Linked DNA regions of Homo sapiens: region 2 is linked to region 1. The links come from fine-mapping of genetic effects on gene expression. A gene starts in region 1. The other region holds a variant in brackets. All regions are shown on one strand. Distances are between the middles of the regions. Region 1 holds the start of ENPP4 (ectonucleotide pyrophosphatase/phosphodiesterase 4). Region 2 holds the start of LOC105375079 (a long non-coding RNA gene).

Region 1 (5,382 bases):
GCACCCATTCCAACTCATTTCCATTGAGAAAAAAAGTAAAGTTTGGGTGAGACCTCAGTTTAAGATGTGGACTGCATTGGTCTACAGGTAACCATATCCTTTGCTGGCTTAGATTTGGATATGTGACACAATTCTGTCCAAAGTGATTAAAGGAGACAGTTGCTGAAGACTTCTAAGAGACAGAAGAAATCTAGACGTCATTTCTATCACCCAGTGGAAGTGAAAAATGAATTACATGGTTCCTGTTGCTGCTGGTAGTTATATTTACCACTAAAGGAACCAGAAGTCTACTCTGTTAAAAGCCAAGTGTAAAGCTGCAAAGAACTGAGTACATTATGAAATCGTTGAGTTGCTAACTCAACCAGTCCTGAAGTCTGCCTTACCTCTGGACTTCTTGTTCCACAAGACGATAAATATCCTTACTATAACAGGATTTTGGTTGTGGTTGAAATGGTAAATATATAGAGGATAACAAAAGTTTAGGGCCAAAGGTCCTTATGTGTCATTTTGTCCCTCTGTTCCTGACCACTTTATCTTACAGAGCAAGAGCCCAGGTGGCATGAGACTCCCTAATTTAACCCAGCCACACAGGCAGTAGCAGTGGATAAAGAGAGTCCTCTCCTGATGCCCATCCAGCTGCTATCTTCACCACACATCTGACCTAGATGGCATTCAGTTTTGTCCACCCTTTAAGCATACATATGCACCTACTGAATGAACAAACAGGATATGCACAATACCCCCAAATGCCACAAAATTTAAGTTCTGCTAATCTTAAATGTTATGTCATTGGACATTACCTAAATTCCCCCAAAACTTGGCCTTACCCTGACTATTGTTCAAATTGGGGTACTTTTTTGGTCATAATGATAATAATCCCCAAAACAACATGTGTCAGATACTGTGCTGAATACTCTACTCGCTTTCCTCATTCATTTGATAGTAAGAGGTTGGTATTGTAACAAGACGCGTTTTGCAGATGAGGAAATGAAAGCTCAAATAGGTTGAGACACTGGCCCATGATTGCTCTGCTGGTGAGTGACAGAGTGAGTATTCAAACCAGGTTCTAGGGTCTGCAGGTTCTAGGGATTCAGCTACAGACCCACTACCATCCCCTCCAGCTCTGAAAGCCCATGGATCTAAGATGCCCATATTCACCAATGCACAGGCCAACCTGAGACTTAAAACTGGAATTAATTTATCAAGGCACAAACTAATAATCAACGGAATACATCTATTGCCAAATCATCTCCATGGCTGCTTCCAGATTGTTGGTAATAGCTATACTGTAAGGTTCAGACCAAGGGGACCAACGTCAGAATTTGTTATCTAAGGTCCAGTACTGCAGTTTACTAATCCAGGTACTGGATTTACAGCTATTAAATACTTAACACTTGAGGATATCACATGTGATTAATATTCTTAATTTATTTGTACTTTTTATTTGAGCTGGAGATACAGTAGTGAACAAGAAAGAAAATACCTTCTGGAGCCTGCATTTTAACAAGCGGGACAATTAAATTCAATAGTGATTTAGCAAGTACTTCTATACCAAGTTCTGTTTGGCACTACAGATAAAAAGAAAAAAGATGCTATCCTCTCACTGCCAAGTGTGCCTGGACAACCCAACTGTTAGCGAATAATTCTACTTCTGTTTGGTAACTGCTCTTTATGTTGGAAAGTTTAGTTACATTATTCTATTAAATAACCTTCCAATTAAAAGCAGGAGCACAATCCCACATACGCGTCTGTCAAAGTAAGCACCCATTTCTCAGCTGTAACTCATTACTGGTTCCCTGCCGCAGGCACTGTGCTGCTTTTAACCTTACTTGTAAACTATTACCTAACTTCCCCGGTAAAGGTGCTCGCTTATCCAGTAAGACGGACAGACGTCTATGGTAGATCCACGTTTCATTTATCCCAACTCACTGGAACTGGCTGAAGCTTCTCCAGACTTGTGCCGGACCTTGGTGCAGCCAAAGTTGCTTTCTCCGCGGCCACCTAAGCTGCCAGGTGCACATTAACTAAGTGGCAGAAGGCCATCGGCTTGGCAATTGCCTGAGGCCTTTCCGGGACTCGCTGGTTTTTAGGTTCCATGAAGGGCATCCAGATCTAGGATGATACGAAAAGTGCGTGGTGGGAGAGTGGAATCAACCTCTACTCTTAGGTCCGATACAACCCCTCCAAGCACCTGTCTAACCAATCGGAAAGAAAGTTACATTCAACGCTGGTTCTAGCATCCAATCCAAGGACGTGTTTCAGACTCTGCTGCCCGGTCCCAGCCAGCCCTGAGCTGGCGCCTTAGACGCTCGCCTGGCAGCTGCGCACACTCGGAGCGCCCCGAGCGGCGCAGATAGGGACGTTGGGGCTGTGCCCCGCGGCGCGGCGCCTGCCACTGCGCAGGCGCCTCAGGAAGAGCTCGGCATCGCCCCTCTTCCTCCAGGTCCCCCTTCCCCGCAACTTCCCACGAGTGCCAGGTGCCGCGAGCGCCGAGTTCCGCGCATTGGAAAGAAGCGACCGCGGCGGCTGGTGAGTACGCGCCTCGCGCGCTCGGCGTTCTGGGGGGCAATGTCACCCCCTCTCCAGTCCCCTAGGGGCTTTGAAAATAGAGATGGTGAGACCAGACCCTATGACCCACTCTCCCCCACTACACGCACATCCCCTGGGGCGCGGCGGGGACGTCCACGAAGGGACTCAAAGAGCCAGGGAGGTGGCGGGCCGAGGCGGAGGCCAGGAAGGGAAGAGGAAAGAAAAATTAGCAGGTGCTGGGGAAGGCAACCTGTGGTGTTAAGTGTGAAGGGAGGGAAGTCAGCCGAACGGTAGTGGAGGAACCTAAGGTGGGTCTGGGGTAAAATTGAGGGGAGCTGGGGCGGGGTCGCCAGGCTTTTGGTTTTAAAGGAGAACCACCCATGGCATCGACATCCGTCTGTCTGAATATTAGATTAGAGTTTATGTTAATTATAGATAATGATATTTAAGAACTAATTTCCTGGAAAACAAGCCAACCAAACAATAAAAGGTACATTTAAGTGCCTTTTTAAAGGGCTGGATTAAAAGCACGTAAGGACTTAAAAACAATGCTTCCTTTTCTTGTCACAACCACCCTATGAGATCATAGCATTCCCATTTTACAGATGACGAAAGTCAGGCTCAGAGAAGTGAAGGGACGCGTCCAACCAAGATTGTACAACTAGTGACAGGCAGATTCAGGTTTACACCAGATCTGACTCCAGAAGGGCTTTGCTTAATCAGGCAATCTTGTGGACCCAAGTCTGAAGGAAGATTTGCCAACTACTGTGAAATATCAACTGCTGGTTTCAGTATTATGAGCTTCTATTTCTTCTTTTTTCCCCTCAGAGATTGTTTCAATCTGTTTTAAGGAAATTAAGAGGCCTGCTGCACTTGTGCGTCTTCCCCCCACCTCCACTTAAATTAGTTACAGGATATAATTTGGAAGACATTTTTTTTTATGGTCTCAGGTCTTAGATTTATTTATTTATTAATTATTATTATTATACCTTAAGTTTTAGGGTACATGTGCACAATGTGCAGGTTAGTTACATATGTATATATGTGCCATGCTGGTGCGCTGCACCCACTAACCCATCATCTAGCATTAGGTATATCTCCCAATGCCATCCCTCCCCCTTCCCCCCACCCCACAACAGTCCCCAGAGTGTGATGTTCCCCTTCCTGTGTCCATGTGTTCTCATTGTTCAATTCCCACCTATGAGTGAGAATATGCAGTGTTTGGTTTTTTGTTCTTGCGATAGTTTACTGAGAATGGATTTCCAATTTCATCCATGTCCCTACAAAGGACATGAACTCATCATTTTTTATGGCTGCATAGTATTCCATGGTGTATATGTGCCACATTTTCTTAATCCAGTCTATCATTGTTGGACATTTGGCTTGGTTCCAAGTCTTTGCTATTGTGAATAATGCTGCAATGAACATATGTGTGCATGTGTCTTTATAGCAGCATGATTTATAGTCCTTTGGGTATATACCCAGTAATGGGATGGCTGGGTCAAATGGTATTTCTAGTTCTAGATCCCTGAGGAATCGCCACACTGACTTCCACAATGGTTGAACTAGTTTACAGTCCCACCAACAGTGTAAAAGTGTTCCTATTTCTCCACATCCTCTCCAGCACCTGTTGTGTCCTGACTTTTTAATGATTGCCATTCTAACTGGTGTGAGATGATATCTCATTGTGGTTTTGATTTGCACTTCTCTGATGGCCAGTGATGGTGAGCATTTTTTCATGTGTTTTTTGGCTGCATAAATGTCTTCTTTTGAGAAGTGTCTGTTCATGTCCTTCGCCCACTTTTTGATGGGGTTGTTTTTTTCTTGTAAATTTGTTTGAATTCATTGTAGATTCTGGATATTAGCCCTTTTTCAGATGAGTAGATTGTGAAAATTTTCTCCCATTTTGTAGGTTGCCTGTTCACTCTGATGGTAGTTTCTTTTGCTGTGCAGAAGCTCTTTAGTTTAATTAGATCCCATTTGTCAATTTTGGCTTTTGTTGCCGTTGCTTTTGGTGTTTTAGACATGAAGTCCTTGCCCATGCCTATGTCCTGAATGGTAATGCCTAGGTTTTCTTCTAGGGTTTTTATGGTTTTAGGTCTAACGTTTAAGTCTTTAATCCATCTTGAATTGATTGTTGTATAAGGTGTAAGGAAGGGATCCAGTTTCAGCTTTCTACATATGGCTAGCCAGTTTTCCCAGCACCATTTATGAAATAGGGAATACTTTCCCCATTGCTTGTTTTTCTCAGGTTTATCAAAGATTAGATAGTTGTAGATATGCGGCGTTATTTCTGAGGGCTCTGTTCTGTTCCATTGATCTATATCTCTGTTTTGGTACCAGTACCATGCTGTTTTGGTTACTGTGGACTTGTAGTATCGTTTGAAGTCAGGTAGTGTGATGCCTCCAGCTTTGTTCTTTTGGCTAAGGATTGACTTGGCGATGCGGGCTCTTTTTTGGTTCCATATGAACTTTAAAGTAGTTTTTTCCAATTCTGTGAAGAAAGTCATTGGTAGCTTGATGGGGATGGCATTGAATCTATAAATACCTTGGGCATTATGGCCATTTTCACGATATTGATTCTTCCTACCCATGAGCATGGAATGTTCTTCCATTTGTTTGTATCCTCTTTTATTTCCTTGAGCAGTGGTTTGTAGTTCTCCTTGAAGAGGTCCTTCACATCCCTTGTAAGTTGGATTCCTAGGTATTTTATTCTCTTTGAAGCAATTGTGAATGGGAGTTCACTCATGATTTGGCTGTTTGTCTGTTGTTGATGTATAAGAATGCTTGTGATTTTTGCACATTGATTTTGTATCCTGAGACTTTGCTGAAGTTGCTTATCAGCTTAAGGAG
Region 2 (5,382 bases), 88 kb after region 1:
GCGCTTGAGACTCTGCGTCTCTAACCAGCTCCACGGGGGATGCAGATACTCCCGGGATGCAGATGCAGATGCTGCAGTGCGTAGAACATGCTTTGAGTACCAAGGACTTAGCTTTTCTGGGCTTTAGTTGCCTTACATGTAAAATGTGGGTATCAGTGCCTTCATCATAAGAGCATAGAGAGAATTAAATAAGAATGTAAAGAACTTGGCCAGGTGCAGTGGCTCAAGCCTGTAATCGCAGCAGTTCCGGAGGCCGAGGAGGGCGGATCACCTGAAGTTGGGAGTTCAAGAGCAGCCTGACCAACATGGTGAAACCCCATTTCTTCTAAAAAATATAAAATTAGCTGGGCATGGTGGCACATGCCTGTAATCCCAGCTACTTGGGGAGGCTGAGGCAGGAAAATCTCTTGAACCTGGGAGGCGGAGGTTGCGGTGAGCTGAGATCACACCATTGCACTCCAGCCTGGGCAACAAGAACAAAAGTCCGTCTCAAAAAAAAAAAAAAAAAAAAGAATGTAAAGAACTTTTAAGAGCTCTTGACACGGTGTAAGCACTCAAAAAATGCTGACTATTCTTTCTGAAGAATGGAAACAGTGAAGGTGCCATCATGAAGACTGAGGGTACAAATGCCAGGTGCTCTGTGTGGGGCCTGATGCATAAAGAGCTCTGGGTGAGGACTTCCTATGTACCCAGCACTTGATACTCTTTCTCATTCAATCCCTCCTAACTCTCTGAGACAGATACTATCATCCTTTACTTTTGATAAATGTGGAAACCAAAACTTAGGTTTAAAAAAACTGTCCAAGACCACAAGTTTACCAAGCAGCAGAGCTGGGGTTTAAACCTAGGTCTTGTGGCAGCAAAACTTGTGAATGTAGTTATTAACCGGCCCTCCAATAATAATTGTTACTGTTATTATCTTATTAAGTCCTCATGACAAAAGTGGATTTTTATGCCCATTTTACAGGAGAGGAAACTGAGTTGTAGGGACTATAGTAACTTGTCTAAAGTCGCTTGCACAATCTTCATCCCTTTCTCATATACAAGGTTGACAGGGAGGTGGTGACATCTTTTGAGGTGGCCTGAGGGTGGCACATGGGCCAGAATTTGGGTTCTACCCTCCCTGTTATAGACCCGTGTTTTTCATGAAGGCTCCTGACAACAGCTGAACAGGCATCCATTGTCCTCCTCACTCCACAGGGATGGTTGAGAGAAGCCCTCCTTTCTCCACTGAGGAACTTTGTGCCAAGTCACCTGCACGTCTACCCTACCTACCCCTGACCTGAACTCAGCAGGACAGCACAAAGAAAGCATGAAGAACTTTGCTGCACTGCTTTTGGAAAATATGCTAACCCCTAGCATAACCAATCCATCTTAAGAATGAAACAGCAGCGATTGATGGAAAAGAGTTGTACAATTCCGGGGCGCTCAAAGTGATGGAAGAAGCTATTGAGGATGATGTAAGTGTCAGGTTAGTTTTTCTAGGACTTAGACTCTGAGAGGGAGATGTACATGCAGGAGGTTTACTAGGGAGACTTTAGAGTCCTTACCTGTTGGGGATAAAGGCAGAGTTGAACTGAAATACCGGGCCTCAGCCTATCCCACAGGGATAGCTCTGGAGCTGGAGTGGCCCAAGGGAAGGCCTTCCTTGACTAGTCACTGGATGCAGGCTGTCCCTGAGGAGGGTGAGACCTTGGGTGGGGAGCATCTCTCCAGCTGAGTGCAATGCCTGGCCACTCAGCAGCGAGTCATGACCCACCAACCTTCCTAACATCTGGGGGCATGAGTGTTTCCACTCTGAAGTGGGGAGCTGGGACTCTGAAGTGGGGAGCTGGGACTCTGAAGTGGGGAACTGGGACTACAGCATCCACAACAGCACATCAGATGGATTATCAAGGTGTTGAACTTGGCAGCTTTGTACGGAAACTATAAATCTTGTTTTAAGAATAAAATACCCTACTGGCAAATCCAAAGATTGTTTGGGGAACAGTAATGATTTTCCTAATGATAGCAACTAGTCAAGGAGGCCCCATAGTCCTGTCCAACCCTAAAAGTTTTCTAACTCAATTATTGGTTGAGAATGGAAAATAACACAAAAGCACCAAGGAGGTATTGTGGATGAATTTTTTAGCACAAAGTGTTTCATCCATTTCTGCCTATTTTGGATTTCCTATTTCCAACCTGTACCAAATGTGCTTGCGTACACATACACACGACTAACCTTAAATATGGCTTCCTTTTAGAGACATAAAAAGCTCATGAATCAACTCCAAAAACATTTGCCCAGACTTTCTTTGAAAGGTGCAGATGAATGAGCTTGACAGAAAACTTTTTGCTTGAAATTTTCCCTTTCTCAGATTGCATA[A/C]ATTTAAGGGGAAAGGCTGCCAAATGTTCAATGACGCTCAGCGTGGTGGCTTCTGGCAGGGACACTCTGTACCAGCAGCTAAATGAATGTTTCCCTGAATCACTGACTGACTTATCATCCTTTATCACCTGCTCTGTTCCCCTTTTTCTGCATTGAGGCTTTCTAAATGACGTGGGGAGGGGAAGTAAAAAAAAACTTTAGAACCACAAGACACTGCATATTGATGTTGGATATTGAGAATTCTTCTGGTGTTAATAGATAGGATTGCAGTGAGGAGCACGAGGCTATCAAAAGCTATCTTCAAGCCTAATGTGGGCAAGACCCGTCAAGCCCCAGTGCTACAGAGGATCTGGACATTTTGGGCTGTAGCTTTGTATTAGGAAACTTCTTGTTTGTGTTAGGATTTACCAATGAATTGGGTCATATAATTCCCTTTTTGAAACCCTTAAAATGAACTCAAACCCCCTAGCCTGGCCTATTAATAATAGGTTCTACTGAGCCTGCCTTCCTCCGCCACCTGCCTTCCAACCTCATCCTAAACTGTGCTCACCCTCACTCCCTGTGCCTCAGCCATACCAACAAAATCCTTCAGGCTCCTCCAACACGACAAGACAAGGCCTTTCCAGAGTCACAGCCTTCAGCCCTGCTGCCTGGAATGCTTTTCTCGCAGCATTTCCATGGCCAGTGCCTCCAGGTCGGCTTAAATGTTACCTCTTTAGAGAGGCCTTCCCTGACTATGATCCTCCACTTTTATTCTCTATTCTCATAGAGTACTTTTGGTTTTCTTCACTGTACTTACCTATGAGAATTTGTGGCCATTATTTGCTTGTTTATTTCTTATCTCTTTTCCATGCTAGACTCCACTCCCTGAAATGGCAGGGACAAAAGCTACCTTGTTCACCACTGAAAACCCAGTGTCAGGCACACAGTTTGTTACTTGAATGAACAGTGTTTCACCCAGAGCCTAAGTCCTGTGCTCTCTCATTTAAAAAGGAACACTTATTTATAGATTTTTAAATGAAGGCTTTGAAAATATGGAAATATCTCACAGACATGAGATGGGAGACGTACGTTTTTAGTATGAGGACATTCTAAACCCCCATCACAACTAATGGCTCCTTCTTCTCTGTCCTCAGGGAGAACAGCTTTTGTTTTAGTTGAGGTATAACTTACTGTAGTATATGGCACACATTTTAACTGAATTTTACATGGGTATACATCCATATGGAGATCAGGATCGAGATGTAGAATATTGATGGCACATTGGAAGGCTTCCACATGAGAGGGTTCCTCTCAGGCAGTACCATTCAAAAGGTAGCCACTGTACTGTGACAGGTCCCCCAACAGGTTACCGAAGGGTATAAGTCTGTTGCCTGAACTCTGAGGGCCGGACAGTGAGCCAAGACCCTGGTGCCGAGCTGAGGAGCAGGTGTCCCTGAGAAGCCAAACCTCCCAGAGAGTTTCTGAGGAACTACCAAGAAAAACAGTCTCATTGTTCAAACACGTAGGCAAAGAGCCAGGAAATTAGCTTAAAAGCAGTTTATGGATGGGAGGTGGGGCAGATCTCCAGAGCTATCCTGCCGCCATCCCAGAGTGCCCCGTATGTAAGTCCTAATAAACTCATCTACTCCTCATGCTGGACTTAGGTCTGAGTCCTTCTTTGGACTCTTAGCACTTTTTTTAGTTTGGGGGTGGTGTTGGGGGACCTTACAGTCCTAAGTGTTTTCATAATAGCCACTATTATTTCTATTTATATAGGCCAGTTTTGACTTTCTTAGCTTGCTAAAAGGAGTCATATACTATGTATTTTTTTCATGTCTAGTTTTTCTTTTTTGCTCAAAATATGATTTTGCGATCTATTCATGTTCATATATGTACCACTAGTTTATGTGTCTTATTGCTTTGTGACATTCCTTTGTGTGAGGATAGCACAGTTTATTCTATAGTTGAAGGACATTTGGGCTGTATCCAGTTAATGGCTATGATGAACAACTTTGCTAGGGACATTATTGTACAAGTATTTTGATAGATGTGTGCACTTGTATCTGCTAGGTGCATGCCCTGGAGTGAATTGCTCCCAGAGGCATGTTAGCTTTAGCAGATATTACCAAACAGTGCTGTGAAGTGAGCACCAGTTGACACTCCACCAGTGGTGCATGACAGTTCCCCTTCCTTCATATCCTTACCAGAACTTTTTATTTCTCCAGACTTAATTTTAGTCATTCTGATAGATCTGTGTAGTAGCTCTGAGATTATCATTTGCTTTTGTCAGATAAGCAATAAAATTGAGCATCTTTTGAATGCTAATGGGTCATCTGGGTATTTTGTGTATGTCTGTGTGTATGTGAATTGCCTGTATGAAGTGCCTTTGAAATTTTTTGATGATCAAAGAAATGGATTGTCTGTTTTCCTTATTTGTAGGGTTTTCTTTTTACATTTTGGATATAATTTATTTTACAACTACATGTGTCTCAAATATCCTTTTCCAGTCTGATGCTGTCCCTTTTCATTCTCCTAATACCCATCTGATGAACAGAAGCTCTTCATTTTAATGGCATTTAATGTATTAATCATTTAGATTATGATAGTGCTTTTCTCCTGAATAATAATTTTTTTGCTAACTCAGGTCTCTTATAGTGCTTTTAACAAGAGAATAGAGTGGGAAGACATTAAAAGAGGTTTTTAGTACACTTGAAATGGCTTTTAGGACCAAGATGTTGAAACATGGCAATAAAACAGGGAGCTCTCCCAGTTCCTCTTATCAGAGGCCAACCCTGCCCTCCAGGCCCTGCTCAAATTCCCCTTCCCCCAAGAGAGGGCTGCCAACCAGCTTCCCCCACTTTCAGGAAGAGCCTAGGTATATGGGTTAACCCCATACGTTGGGGACTTCTTAGAAAAACTCTAGGTTGAAATGCAGTCCCCCACAATTACCCCTCAAGAATATTCAACTCAGGTCGACAACACAGAAATTAAACCACATGGACAAAGAGTCATTCACCAGATATATTTGAAGTCTA

What was found.
Region 2: its variant is fine-mapped to the expression of ENPP4 in fibroblasts (GTEx, PIP 0.97).

What each region holds. Positions count from the first base shown.
Region 1 is chr6:46,127,661-46,133,042 of GRCh38, forward strand. ENPP4 (ectonucleotide pyrophosphatase/phosphodiesterase 4) reads left to right here and starts at 2,329. Exons shown (of 4, transcript NM_014936.5): 1 at 2,329-2,529. It also overlaps a transcript of CLIC5 not described here.
Region 2 is chr6:46,215,382-46,220,763 of GRCh38, forward strand. LOC105375079 (a long non-coding RNA gene) reads left to right here and starts at 3,924. Exons shown (of 5, transcript XR_001743802.3): 1 at 3,924-3,969. RCAN2 (regulator of calcineurin 2) reads right to left here. Exons shown (of 5, transcript NM_001251974.2): 5 at 5,355-5,382. The variant A/C (reference allele first, on the strand shown) is at 2,366.